Linked DNA regions of Homo sapiens. The protein of the gene in region 2 purifies or fractionates together with the protein of the main gene of each other region. This does not show direct contact. Each region holds a gene or a part of one and is shown on either strand. Other genes may lie near its edges.

Region 1 (7,026 bases), on a different chromosome or scaffold from region 2:
GTTCAGTATCAAAACATCTCATGTACTCCCCAAGTATATACACCTCCTATGCACCCAGAAAAATTAAAAATTAAACGATAAAAAGAACTGGGGTTTCACAGGCAACAGGCCTCCCTGCCCACTGACAGCCTTGCGCTGAAATGTCTATCATCTCCTTTACAAAGACGGTACTGCCTGCTTCCCCAAGCCAAGCGTCTGCTTTTCTGTTTTGCTGAACTCAGGTTGCTTAGCGACCACGCACTCTAAAGCCATTCACAAGATCGACATCCCTTCCTTTGACTGGCCCATCGCACCGTTCCCACGGCTGAAATACCCTCTGGAAGAGTTTGTGAAAGAGAACCAACAGGAGGAGGCCCGCTGTCTGGAAGAGGTAATGCTCATACCCTGCGGATCCTCCCCAACCACCAGTCCTGTTGCTCTTGCCGCCCCAAGACTTGGGGAGAAGAGAAACAGATGAAGGGTTTATCTGGGGATCTGTGCAGTGCTCCCCCAGAGGGAAGCAGGGACACAGAGGCCTTGCGTCCCAAATGTTCTATGTTGGGAGAGTTCGTGAGACACACTGTTTCTGTCACAGCATCCATCACCCAACTCTGATACCAATTTCTGTATCACTTAAGTTTCTTGGAAGACAAGAGTCAATGACTCTAAAATAAGAGAAAACAGATCAGTTGAAAGAATATGGGGCTGGGCACGGTGGCTCCGCCTGTAATCCCAGCACTTTGGGAGGCTGAGACGGGAGGATCACCTGAGGCCAGGAGTTCGAGACCAGCCTGGCCAACATGGTGAAACCCCATCTCTACTAAAAATTAGCTGGGTGTGGTGGCACATGCCTGTAATCCCAGCTACTAGGGAGGCTGAGGCACAAGAATCCCTTGGACCCGGGAGGCAGAGGTTGCAATGAGCCAAGATTGCACCACTGCACTCCAGCCTGGGTAACGGAGTGAGACTCTGTCCAAAAAAAAAAAAAAAAAAAAAAGAGAGAGAGAGAAAGAAAGAATATGGGATATCCCACAGGAAAAAATGGTTCCACAAGATCCTCTAAACCACTGGTTTTGTCTTCTCCTGAGTCTTGGGGCTTTGAGTTGCTGTGGGTCGGGGGATGCTATGGGAGAGGCTGAGGACAGGCAGCACCCCCCTACCCCCCGTTTCCACGTCATCTAACACAGCCCTCTTTAGATCCACTCAGTATATGGGGGTTCCAGGGAAGACATTGGAAGTAATCTGCAGCTGGAAAAAAATATCACTGTTTGGGTATAGATTTGAACTCAAATAAGGCTGCTGGTTTTTTTCTTAGGCACATCATCATTTTCAATCAGTTCATATTTATTGAGCACCTACTAGATGTCAAGCAAGGTGCTAGGTGCTGGGTATTCAGTGGTAAATAGAAAAGACAAGATAATGGCATCAAGTACAGCACTGTCCAATAGAAATATAATGCAAGCCACATATGTAATTATAGCTTTTCCAGTAGTCACCTTTTCTTTCATTTTTACACCCTGCCTGGAAACTGCCAAGGAGTCACATTTGCTTTGTTTTGTTTTGCTTTGTTTTTGAGATGGAGTCTAGCTCTGTTGCCCAGGCTGGAGTGCAGTGGCGCGATCTCAGCTCACTGCAAGCTCCGCCTCCTGGGTTCATGCCATTTTCCTGCCTCAGCTTCCTGAGTAGCTGGGACTACAGGCGCTTGACACCACACCCGGCTAATTTTTTGTATTTTTAATAGAGACAGGGTTTCACCGTGTTAGCCAGGATGGTCTCGATCTCCTGACCTTGTGATCCGCCCGCCTCGGCCTCCCAAAGTGCTGGGATTACAGGTGTGAGCCACCGCGCCGGCCTTCTTTTCTTTTGTTTTGTTTGAGACAGGGTCTCACTCTGTCACCCAGGCTGGAGTGCAGTGGTGCAATCACAGCTCACTGCAGTCTCGACCTCTCTGGGCTCAGGTGATCCTCCCACCTCAGCTTCTTGAGTAGTTGGAACTAAGGCACATGACACCACCACACCTGGCTAATTTTTGTATTTTTTGCAGAAACAGGTTTTGCCGTGTTGCCCAGGTTGGTCTCAAACTCCTGGGCCCAAGTGGTCTGCCCACTTCGGCTTCCCAAATTGCTGGGATTACAGGTGTGAGCCACCGTGCGTGGCCAGGAGTCACGTTTTTTAAAATTACAAAGAAATAGGTGAAATTCATTTTCAGAGCATTTTATTGAACCGAATATATTCAAAATATTATCACGTAAATGTGTAATTAGTATTTTTAAACAATGTGATTTTTATATTCCTTTTTAAAAATTCCTTTATTTTAAAAATTCATTTATTTAGGTCTAAACAAACTAAGATAGTCCTTTTCTTCGTATTCAGTTTTTGAAACACTGTGTGTATTTTACACTTACAGCACAATGCTCTAAAAACAAAGAAAAACCGGGCGCGGTGGCTCATGCCTGTAACTGCGACACTTTGGGAGGTTGAGGCGGGCAGATCACCTGAGGTCAGGAGTTCAAGAGCAGCCTGACTAACATGGAGAAACCCCATCTCTACTAAAAATACAAAATTAGCCGGGCATGGTGGTGCATGCCTGTAATCCCAGCTACTCCAGAGGCCGAAGCAGGAGAATCACTTGAACCCGGGAGGTGGTGGTTGCGGTGAGCTGAGATTGCGCTATTGCACTCCAGCCTGGGCAACAAGAGTAAAACTCCATCTCAAAAAAAAAAAAAAGAAAACCAAGAAAAGTATCTCAGAGCTTCCTTGGGGTGACTGGTGGAGACCAAGGTCAAAATCATATCACCCAAACAGAGGCTTTTTCTTAATTGTACATAATAAAGAAAGCTTTCACTTGTTAGTCTATCTAGGTGTACGGTTTAGGGTTTTTCTTTCTTTTTTTTTTTTTTTTGAGACAGAGTTTCACTCTCTTGCCCAGGCTGGGGTGCAGTGGCACGATATCTCGGCTCATTGCAACTTCTACCTCCTGGGTTCAAGCGATTCTCGTGCCTCAGCCACTGGAGTAGCTGGGAGTACAGGCGTGAGCCACCATGCCCAACTAATTTTTGTATTTTTAGTAGAGATGGGGTTTCACCATGGTAGCCAGGCTGGTCTGGAACTCCTGACCTCAGGTGATCTGCTCGCCTTAGCCTCCCAAAGTGCTAGGATTACAGGTGTGAGCCACCATGCCCAGCCTCTTTCTTTTTAACAAAGACAGGATCTTGCTGTGTTGCACAGGCTGGAGTGCAGTGGTGTGGTCATAGCTCACTGCGATCTCACAGTCCTGGTTCAAGGGGTCCTCCCACCTCAGCCTCTCAAGTAGCTGAGACTACAGGCACGCAGCCACCATGCCCAGCTAATTTCTAAATGTTTTGCAGACATGAACCGCGCTATGTTGCACAGGCTGGTCTCAAACTCCTGGCCTCAAGGTATCCTCCTGCCTCAGCCACCCAAAGTGCTGGGATTGCAGGTGTGAGCCACCACACCTGGCCCTTAGAACAGTTTTTTAACCGAGGATATATCTCCGATTCTGCCCCAAAAGGATTCTCACACCAATCATAGCAATAATACTGTAAGAATAGGAACAATAATAATCAATAATAATATAGTCGTGCTAATCGTAATAGTAGCAGCCACCACTTTATGTGTGCCAGACTCTGCTGTATTTTCTCTCTGTCTCTGTGTGTGTGTGTGTGTGTGTGTGTGTGTGTGTGTGTGTGTGTGTGTGTGTGAATGCTCTCACCTTTATTTCTCTCAATATACCCGTGATGTAGCTATTTCCCACATAACAAGGTTAAGTGACAGGTGCATGTTCCATGTAAAACAGAGGCAGAACCACAGCTAAAACATCTGGCCCAGCAATCAACTCATAGTGCTATATTTTCTCATTCAGTCCTCTCCACGACCCTGGAAGGTGGATTCTGTCAGTGTGCCCATACAACACATCAGGAAAGTGAGGCTTCTGAAGCTAAATTACTTGCCCCAATTTATTAGTTTGTATCCACCCAGGTGCTAGCACCGATTTCAAGTAGGATACATTCCCATCCACACACATAGCTTCTAACAGAGGCTTCACTGGTCTTAGGAAATGCACACAAACACATTTCCAATAAAATTGCATGGGGCTCATCGAACCCCAGATTCCCACCCACGGATACTGGTCACAAGCCTCTGCCATCGGTGGTCACTTTCCCCTTTGGGATCCAGGTGGAGGATCTGATTGTGAAATATCGGAAAAAGAAGAAGACGGTGGCCGGGATCATCGTGGAGCCCATCCAGTCCGAGGGTGGAGACAACCACGCATCCGATGACTTCTTTCGGAAGCTGAGAGACATCGCCAGGAAGGTCAGTGGACAGGGCCGAGGTTGGATGGAGCCATTGGGTTTTCTGGGTTGAGTTCCCCGAGTAACGGGCCAGCAGCACCTCTGCCTTGGAGCTTCTGTCAATCTCCAGACTTGCAGAGGCTGTCTGTCAGCATCAGGGGTGGAGAAGTTGGGGTTGGTGAAAGAATGGGGATTCTTCCCTAAAACTATACACACACACACACACACACACACACACACACACACACACACATATATATATATTTTTTTTTTTGAGACAGAGTCTCACTCTGTTACCCAGGCTGGAGTGCAGTGGTGCAATCTCAGCTCACTGCAACCCCTACCTCCCAGGTTCAAGTGATTCTCCTACCTCAGCCTCCCGAGTAGCTGGGACTACAGGCACACGTCACCATACCCAACTAATTTTTGTATTTCTAACAGAGACGAGATTTCGCCATGTTGGCCAGGCTGGTCTTGAACTCCTGACCTCAGGTGATCTGCACACCTCAGCCTCCCAAAGTGCTGGGATTACAGGCCTGAGCCACCACACTTGGCCTTAAAATCTTTTTAAAAAACCTTTTTGGATACATAATAGTTGCAGTGCGTAATGATCAAATCTGGGTAATTGGATATCCATCACCTAAAATATTTATCATCTCTTTGTATTGGGAATATTCCAAATCCACTCCTATTTTGAACTATGCAATAAATTATTAACTAAAATCACCCTATTGTGCTACTGGACACTAGATCTTATTCTTCTATCTAACTGTACTTTTGTATCCATTAACCAACCCCTATTTATCTCCACCTCCCCATTAGCCTTGCCAGCCTCTGATAGGCGTCATTCGACTCTATTTCTTCATAAGGGAAGTGTTTTTAGTTCCCACCTGAGTGAGAACATGCAATATTTGTGTATGTGTGGCTTATGTCACTTAACATAATGTCCTGTAGTTCCATCCACGTCATTGCTAATGACATAATTTCATTCTTTTTATGGCTGAATAGTATTTCTTTGTGTATATGTACCATATTTTCTTTTTCTTTTTTTTTGAGACAGTCTCACTCTGTTGCCCAGGCTGGAGTGCAGTGGCACGATCTTGGCTCACTGTAACCTCTGCCTCCTGGGTCCAAGTGATTCTCCTGCCTCAGTCTCCCAAGTAGCTGAGATTACAGGTGCACGACACCATGCCCAGCTAATTTTTGTATTTTCAGTAGAGACGGGGTTTCGCCATGTTGGCCAGGCTGATTGGCTCAGACTCCTGGCCTTGGGTGATTTGCCCGCCTCAGCCTCCCAAAGTGCTGGAATTACAGGTGAGAGCCACCGCGCCTTGCCGAGTGTGTATATGTACCATATTTACTTTATCCATTCATCCATCGATGGACAGATTGATTCTGTATCTCGGCTATTGTGAACAGTGCTGCAATAAACATGGGAGTGCAGGTATCTCTTTGACACACTGATTTGCTTTCTTTATATTGTGTGTTTGTTTTAATGTCTTGTGCATATATAACTGGCAATCAAACCGATAAGTTCACAGATAAAAGTTATAAGACGTGAGTTGACTTAACACAGATGCTGAGTTAGAAATAGCCTTGGTGACAAGCAGAACATGGCAGCTGAAGTTTGAGAAGCACATTCGAGGCCTCACTGTTGGACACAGCTCCCTCTGACGAGGTCGAGACCCGAGACTGAAGCCAGATGACATACCGCTCTGTGTTGGTGCAGGGAGTATTTAATGTTCTGGGTTTTTTTGGTCCAGCTTAGCAGTTTTAGGAAACACTCAGATTCAGCTCTGGTTGGAACTGCTCAGCTTAAGTGTTTTGATTAGTTTTTTTTGTGCACAGCTCAAGAACATGGGGCTGGTTTGCTCTTCAGAAAACAAGCACGATGTGTGTGGACCCAGGGTTTGGCAGTTAGCTGGCTATGGAGGGCATGAATTTCTGGCCTCCCACGGGTGTTTATTTCTCCCTCCTCTCTCTTCTCCGGCCAGCATGGCTGCGCCTTCTTGGTGGACGAGGTCCAGACCGGAGGAGGCTGCACGGGCAAGTTCTGGGCCCATGAGCACTGGGGCCTGGATGACCCAGCAGACGTGATGACCTTCAGCAAGAAGATGATGACTGGGGGCTTCTTCCACAAGGAGGAGTTCAGGCCTAATGCTGTGAGTTGGAGCCAACCTTCTCTCTACATCCAGGGCAGAGAAGGGAGCATCCTCTTCTCCTAACTGTTCCTTTCTCACCATCGAGGAGCTGGGTGGGCACTTACTGGGTCGCAGGTTTTCTAAGTCCCAGTTCTTATCAATGCAATTAGCAGTGGTGTGCCCTCCCAGCTCTCTCTGTAAGGCCAACTCTGGAACAGTCCACCATCAGCCTTTTCCTGTTTTCTCTCTGTGTGCACACACAATAATATCATCGACAGCTGCCGCAGCAGACTGAGCATTTGCTATGTGCCTAGTTCTAAGTATTTCTCATATACTTTTAATCCTGAGAACAATCTAACCAAGTAGCTGTTATTTTTATCCTCATTTGACTAATGAGGAATCAGGCACAGAGAGGTTAAGTAATTTGTCAAAGGTCACACAGCCTGTTAAGTGACAAAGCCAGGATTCCAACCCAGAGCCCATACTCTTACCCACTACACTGTGTACTGCCATGTGTGCATACAGATTTACACACACACACACACACAGCCATCAGGGGCCAACGTCCTTTCACCATTCCTACATGTAGTTTC
Region 2 (7,233 bases):
CTCCCCTCAAGTCTTTCTATCATCCAGGGGGAGTTCAGTGGCCACATCAGCATCCTGACTGTCTCCTGTACTCCACTTTGGTCACTGACTCCCACGGCCACACAGTGGACCTTGTCATCACCGGAAACTACTCAAACTTCATTCTTCCACTTTCTGATCACAACTCCCTCATTCAATGATCTCAGATGTGGATTCTCTGACTTCACTGGGACCTCTAGTCCATACATTTTTTTTCACTCTCCTATCCAGTTTAGATACTAAGGCCCTTCATTTCAATCACTGTTTTGCCACAATCTTCAACTTCCTTGTCCTTTGTCCTTCCATTGTATCCGCCTGGTAAAACCCAAACCTAGATCAATTAAACTAACCTCTGTGTACCCACCACTAGGTGGCTGAATGTTGTTGAGGGAAAAATGCATATTACACAACCTTGCAGACTGCTGCTTCCGAAAATTAATGGTCACTAACCTCGACAGGGCCATGATAACTGCCCAGAAATCTGTTTGCTACCTTAGTCATCTCACTGCCACTCTCCAGTGCTGCTATTTTAATCTTTCTCTGCTCTTTTCAATCTCGCACACCATCTCCAATCCCACTCTCACTGGCTGATATAATGTTCTTATTTGACAGAGAAAATGGAAACCATCGAAGAATTCCCTCAGCTTCCTGTCACCAAACCCACCAATTAACCTCAACGTAATGCTTCCCTTCTGCCACAAAACAAATGTTCCTCCACCCTTCTAAGTGAATTTCTTCACCAACACTTTGGTGAAGTCTTTTTTTCAAGGGCACCATTCTCAGTTATCTTCTTTCCCTTATAGTTTTATCTTTTTCCCCTTTGCTGGATCCACATCAACATTTCTTCCATCCGAATAAAAACCTGTGTTTCCTGCTGGATATTGCCTTCTTTTTTCTTCTCCTAAATAGCCAAGCTTTCTGAAAATGTATCTTACATGAATCTTCACTTCCTCAATCCCATCTGCTTCTCAAACCACTGTAATTTGACCTCTGCTCCCATCACTCCACTGAAACTGCACTTGTAAAGGTCACCAACAACTTCCTTGTTTCTAAATCCAGTGGATTCTTTCAGGCCTTATTTTACTTGATTAGTCATAAGCCTTCAACACTTTCCTTCCTTGGCTTCTGAAACACCACATACTACTACTGATCTTCTTACCATTTTGGACACTTCATCTTGATTACCTTTGCAGGTTCGTCCTCCTTTGCCAGACCCTCAAACTTGGGTGTTTCTCAGGGCTCTGTCCTAGGTCTCTTCTGACTCTACACTTACTCCCTGGGCAAGCTCAACAAATCTATTGGTGTGGCTGGCATCTATAAGGCCCCATAGACTCCCACACTGCAACTTCCAGTTAGACTTATCTGGCGAACTCCAGTTAGGCATATCCAATGGCCTTCTGGATACCTCCACTTGGATGTTCCATTGGCACCCCAAGCTCACCGTGCCCAGAACTGACCCTCTCCTAAAAACCCCTGCTTCCTCTCCTTCCTGTTTGCCCAAACCAGGAATCTAGAAGTCATCCTTCATTTCCCTTACTTCCCCCACACCCAATTAGTAACCAAGTCCATTTTTTTCTAGCTATAAGTGTCTAAGGAATTCATCCTGCCCTTTCCATTTCAGCTGCCACTCCATGCTTTGTGCCACCATAATCCTTCCCCACTACTGAAACAACCTCCTAACTGGTCTCCCTCCTTCTCCCAATCCTCAATCCAGTTCCTGCACTAATGTTTCTTTTTTTTTGAGACAGAGTCGCGCTCTGTCACCCAGGCTGGAGTGCAGTGGAGCAATCTCGGCTCACTGCCACCTCTACCTCCCAGGTTCAAGCCATTCTCCTGCCTCAGCCTCCCAAGTAGCTGGGATTACAGGTGTGCACCACCATGCCCGGCTAATTTTTGTATTTTTAGTAGAGATGGGGTTTCGCCATGTTGGCCAGGCTGGTCTCGAACTCCTGACCTGAAGTGATACGCCCGCCTCAGCCTCCCAAAGTGCTGGGATTACAGGGGTGAGACACCACACTGGGCTCTTTGTTTTGTTTTTTGAGACAGGGTCTCACTCTGTCACCCAGGCTGGAGTGCAGTGGCACAATCATGGCTTACTGCAGCTTTGACCTCCTGACTCAAGTGATCCTCCCACCTCAGCTTTCCAAGTAGCTGGGACTTCAGGCATGCGCTACCATGCCTGGCTAATTTTTAAAATTTTAATTTTGTAGAGATGAAGGTCTCACTATGTTGCCCAGGCTGGTCTTGAACTCCTTCAAGCCATTCTCCCGTCTTGGCCTTCCAAAGTGCTGGGATTACGAGTTTGAGCCACCGCGCCTGGCATGCAAAGAGTCTTTCCCCCTCCCTATCTCTAAAAGTCTTTCAAGGCCCAGCTCAAGAGCCAACCCCACTGCCATAAATGCCCCTTCTCTGATTCTGAGCTCCTCAAATCCTTACTCTTCTGTAGTATTTATCTCACACGCAGAATCAGAGTTGCTTCATGCATGGTTTCTCTCCCTCTCCCGTTAAGACATGGGAGAGGGAGGGCCAAAAGCTTGATTCTCACTAGGGCCTAAGGAACCTTATTTAGCCCACCCAGTCTCTGGCACATAGTATGTAAATATGCTGGCACATAGTATGTAAATATAGATAAATGCAAGAAAGTTGCACTCCCAGCTCCTCGGTGGGCCCTATCAACAGGGCATTCTCTAAAGTCATCAACTGAAGACTGCTTCCCATCCACCCATCCATCCATCCATCCATCCATCCATCCAGAATATGCCTCAACCCCACTGGGTGGAGGTTGGGTCGGCACGCGCCCCCTAGGCCGTTTTGTACGGTTTTATACCTCCAGCCCTCGCAGTTGCGGCTGGTAGAGGATGGCAGAGGTAGGTAGACGATGCAAGTCAAAGGGCACACTCTTCCGCCGCGTAGGATAGGACTCTGTTCGGACGAGTGACCCTGCCCATTCCCAGAATACAGCAACTCTTCAGCCGCCTCTCACCTACATGAGAGGGTGGGGACTCTTCCTGACCGGCGCCCCGGCTGACCAATACCTGATCCAGATCAAGCGAATTAGCCAATGGCTGCGGGTCAGTAATAGGGGCGGGGCATGGTTGCTAGGGCCGAGCTAGTGGGGTGAGGCGAGAGGCTCTGGAAGAGACTCGGTGGTTGCTAAGGCGGGAGGTCACAGAGCGCGGCGCAGGGATTGGGCCGTGTTGGGGGAGGTGTGTGGTGATTGGGCGGCGCCCAGGAGGCGCCCGGGTGAGGCACGGGTGCGCAAGCGGGAGTTCCGGCTGGAGACCCGTGCTCTGGGCCGGCGCCTTCACCATGGCCTCGGCAGAGCTGGACTACACCATCGAGATCCCGGATCAGCCCTGCTGGAGCCAGAGTATGGAATGAGGGTTGGGTCCAGGCGCGGGGAGGTGACCTCATGAACCTGTGGGTTGCGAGCGCAGCTGTAGCCCCGCCCCTCATGCGGCCCCGCCCTCCCTCGGGCCGCCCCCTCATAGGGTCTGGCAGGTCCTAGACTTAGAGAGGCTCAGAGAGCCCCGCCCCTCGTAAGTCCCGCCCCAGAGTGTTCCTCCCTGGCGAGCCCCGCCTCTGCCCGAGTCAGCTGCTCGCTTGGGACCTCTTTTTCTGTCTTTCCTGTCCGGGGTGCTCAGGTCCATGCCCTTTAATCACTTCTCATAGCTGAAGGCTGCCGAAAGCTGGATCCCTCCTGATTCCTTTGTTTGGGATTGGGCTTCCCACATCTAGCCTATCACTTATTATTTTCCCGAAGGCGTGGAGGGGGAGGCTCGCGGGGTCACCGATCCTCGCAGAAGCCCGGGACTCAGAACCCTTAGCCGTCCCTCTCCACTCTTCTCGGCAGTGGTTAACAGTGCAGTCTCTGCCGTCGGGTAGAACTCGACTGAAATCCTGACTCCTTCCTTTAGGAGCTGGATTACCTTTGGTAAGCTACCTTCTCTGAACTTCAGTTTCCTCCTCTGCAAAACCGGGATAAGGATAGTAACCTTCCTCATAGGGCTGTTGGGGCCATCTGGAGATTGTGTAAAGGGCCTGGCATGGAGTGAGTTCAGTAATTGGCATTTACGATCAGCATTGTTTCTCTCCTTACATTAAAGAAAGACATGTAGGATTCTCCACAAAATTAGGATTGACAGCAGGCCCGCATCCATGACAGTGTGAGTAGATCGGGGTCCAGAGAGTGGAAAGTTTGGTCTCTCTGGGAATTCTGGCAGAAGGGCCTTGAAGTATGATCAGCCTGAGGCCAGCGTGTCCCTCACTTGCATTAGTCCAGCATCGCCTTCACGCCTCCTGTCTCACTGCCTGCAGCCCAGCCTCTTAAACTGCTACCACAGTGATCTTTCTAATGCAAAGGTTTGATCTTATACTCTGCTCTCCATAAAACTTACCTCCTTAAGGAGAGCCTTCCCAGATCCCTCCCGTAGCATCTCATGTTCTTTGGTTGGAGTCTAGGAGAGGGCAGCCCTTAGACTCCCGCAGAACAGATGGCCCCAGACCAGCTGTTTTTCCCTAGAACTGGATCTGCTGGCTTAGCGCTTTTGGGTTTATAGATGTAAAAATACTTTGGACACGTTTTGGCGTCAGCAAGCCATGAAGTCAGTTAATATTATTTCCTTTGGAGAGTCTTCGGCTGCAAAGGGTTGGAGCTGCCTTCTGCACGGCCAGGAGGGCAGCCTCGTGGTCCTGGTTCACATTTCAGCTCCATGTCTTACAAGTTATATGTCTTTGGCAAGCTATTGAACCTCCCTGAGCCTGAGATTCCTCCACTGTGAAATGGGAAGAGTACTAGTGCCTACCTCCTCGTGGGATTGCGAGGGTTACGAGGTAGCGTTTGGATGTGTGTCCCTGGCACAGTGCAGGTGCTGCCATTGCATTGCTCCCCTGTGGTTCCCCCTCAGCCCCCCTTTCTTTTTTTTTTTTTAAGAGATGGAGTCTCCCCTGTCGCCCAGGCCGGAGTGCAGTGGCGGATCCCATGGCTCCCTTTGCTGCTCCAGGAGGCTGGGTCTTAGAATTGGAAGAAATCTCAGAGACTGTTTTGTCCTGCCTCCCTCTGTTGGCATGAGTGCATTCCATTGCTAGCAGACCCTTCCCTGGGGCGATGCTTCTGCCCAAACATTCTAGCCTGTTGGAGGCAGCTGGGATTGTTAGAAAGCACTTCCCTTTCTTGAGCCACAATAGGCCTTCCTGTAATTTCCGCTCTCAGTTCAGTATTTGCTGTGTCCTGGCTGTGGGATCGTTGTTGGCCACTCAGAAGTGACTCACACGCCCAAGGAGCTGAGGTTTTGGGGAGGGGAGTGAATTTATAAGCAGGTGGTTTCAAAATGGTGTGCTAACTGCAGGGCTAGAGCATTGTGGTGGGAACGATACAGAGCAAGGAATCTCTCTTCCTCTGTTCAAGAGGACAGCTTCGTGCCTTCACATTTCCTCCAAGGGAAACACCTCCACGGCTTTCAGTTGTTTCTCCTCCTTATTGCTGCTCCTGACTGGCTTTAATTCATTGCCCTTCCCTCTCACAGTCCATGCTCCAGAGGAGAGCTAGAGGTTGTCAAACCCCTCAGAAGGAGATCACGACGCTGTGGTCCCCTGAATCCATTTGCTTCCTATCTGCAGAGCTTCCCTCCAGGCCAACATGGCCTGATAGAGTGACAGTCTTTTGGAGCCCCAGAGATTGTCTGTCTTTTGCAATTACTGTTTAATGGTGGAGAAGTGTATAGGACATTCATATTTAGTTTCTGAAATTACTTTTTAAAAACTTTTTTTTTTGAGGTGGAGTCTAACTCTGTCGCCCAGGCTGGAGTGCAGTGGCACGATCTCAGTTCACTGCAACCTCCGCCTCCTGGCTTCAAGCAATTCTCCTGTTTCAGCCTCCCAAGTAGCTGGGACTACAGGCACCCGCCACCATGCCTGGCTAATTTTTGTAGTTTTAGTAGAGACAAGGTTTCACCATATTGGTTAGGCTGGTCTTGAACTCCTGACCTCAGGTGATCCACCCGCCTCAGCCTCCCAAAGTGCTGGGATTACAGGCGTGAGCCACTGTGCCCAGCCTTTAAAAACACTTTTTTTTTTCAGTTTAAAAAATTTTCATTTTCTTATATGGAGACAGAGTCTTACTGTATTGCCCAGACTGGTTTGAAACTTCTGGGCTCAAGCAGTCCTCCTATCGCAGCCTCCCAAAGTGCTGCGATTACAGGTATGAGCCACTGCACCTGGCCTGAAATTACTTTTCCCCTGTATTTGAAAAATCGAAACCACAGAGCCCATCACTGCTGTGAGCTGACAGAGAAGCTGATGCTGGCACATTAGCTAGCTGGAAGGCAGCTGCAGATCTGGGGTCATTCAGAGCCCTGGGCCTTGTAGGTCAGGCTTGGCAGCCCAACATCCTTCTGCTGGGAATCCTACCAGCCAGTACCTATTGGCTGCCCACACCGATGGTCGTCTGCCCAGGCCTTTGCTAAAGCCGGTCGTTTGACCCAGAATCTGTCTTCCCTCCTCCCTCTCTTTTTCCCAGGCCAGTGATCCCCTCAGTCTCTCAATACCCTCTCTTACTTCATTTCATTTGGGAAGGGTCTCTCCTGGGGCTCCCATAAGCACTATATTTTCCTGTTGTCGTGTTTTTGATGGCTTCACTCACTGTCACCAGGGCCTGGGAGGGATGATGTACCAAGTGAGCTGAATGGAATCACTTGGCAGCACTGTAGGCCCAAGCCAGAGCTGCTCTGACATCCCAGGCCCAGGCCGTGCCACCCCTCCTCCCATCCAGAGAATGGTCAGCCAAGTCCCACCTAGATCCCCTCTGTGACTTGCTCATAGGCCAGCAACCTTCTTAAAGGCACCGTGTGGCTCTCATGTTCAGTAAACATAAAGAAAAATTCATTCATAGAATTAATGAGTCTGGGGCCTGGTCATGGGACAAACATTTTGCTCTTAAAGTAAACAGAAGGTCTTAAGGGGATCACAGAGAGGGGAAGTGAGGGGGTTTTTGCTCCCCAGGTTTTACCGCATGCCTTTTTTGCTCATCACTGGCTGAGGTCAAAGAAATATAGACATCATTTTAACCCTCAGGAAGTTGTCTCGGACACCCAGGAGACAGTGCTGAAGGGTCTGGACCACCATGGTGGGCCCTGTGGTGGGAGAGGCTTCCTAGAGTAGAGCAGCCCAAGCTGGACCTGAAGCTTCAGGAGGGCTGACAGACCCCCATGGTGAGCA

What was found. Proteins that work in one complex are often made in the same cells at the same time.
Region 1: the proteins of ARMH1 (region 2) and ABAT purify together in Homo sapiens (affinity purification with mass spectrometry; 2 studies listed by BioGRID and IntAct, with this or other methods). This does not show direct contact.

Annotation. Positions count from the first base shown.
Region 1 is NC_000016.10:8,768,604-8,775,629, forward strand, and holds part of ABAT (4-aminobutyrate aminotransferase, mitochondrial isoform 1 precursor), read left to right. Parts: intron 1-221; coding exon 222-370; intron 371-4,176; coding exon 4,177-4,314; intron 4,315-6,286; coding exon 6,287-6,454; intron 6,455-7,026. UniProt on the Homo sapiens protein: Catalyzes the conversion of gamma-aminobutyrate and L-beta-aminoisobutyrate to succinate semialdehyde and methylmalonate semialdehyde, respectively. Can also convert delta-aminovalerate and beta-alanine.
Region 2 is NC_000001.11:44,670,486-44,677,718, reverse strand, and holds the start of ARMH1 (armadillo-like helical domain containing protein 1), read right to left. Parts: upstream 3,006-7,233; 5' UTR 2,846-3,005; intron 1-2,845. Other genes in the region: TMEM53 (transmembrane protein 53), read left to right, coding at 3,328-3,388.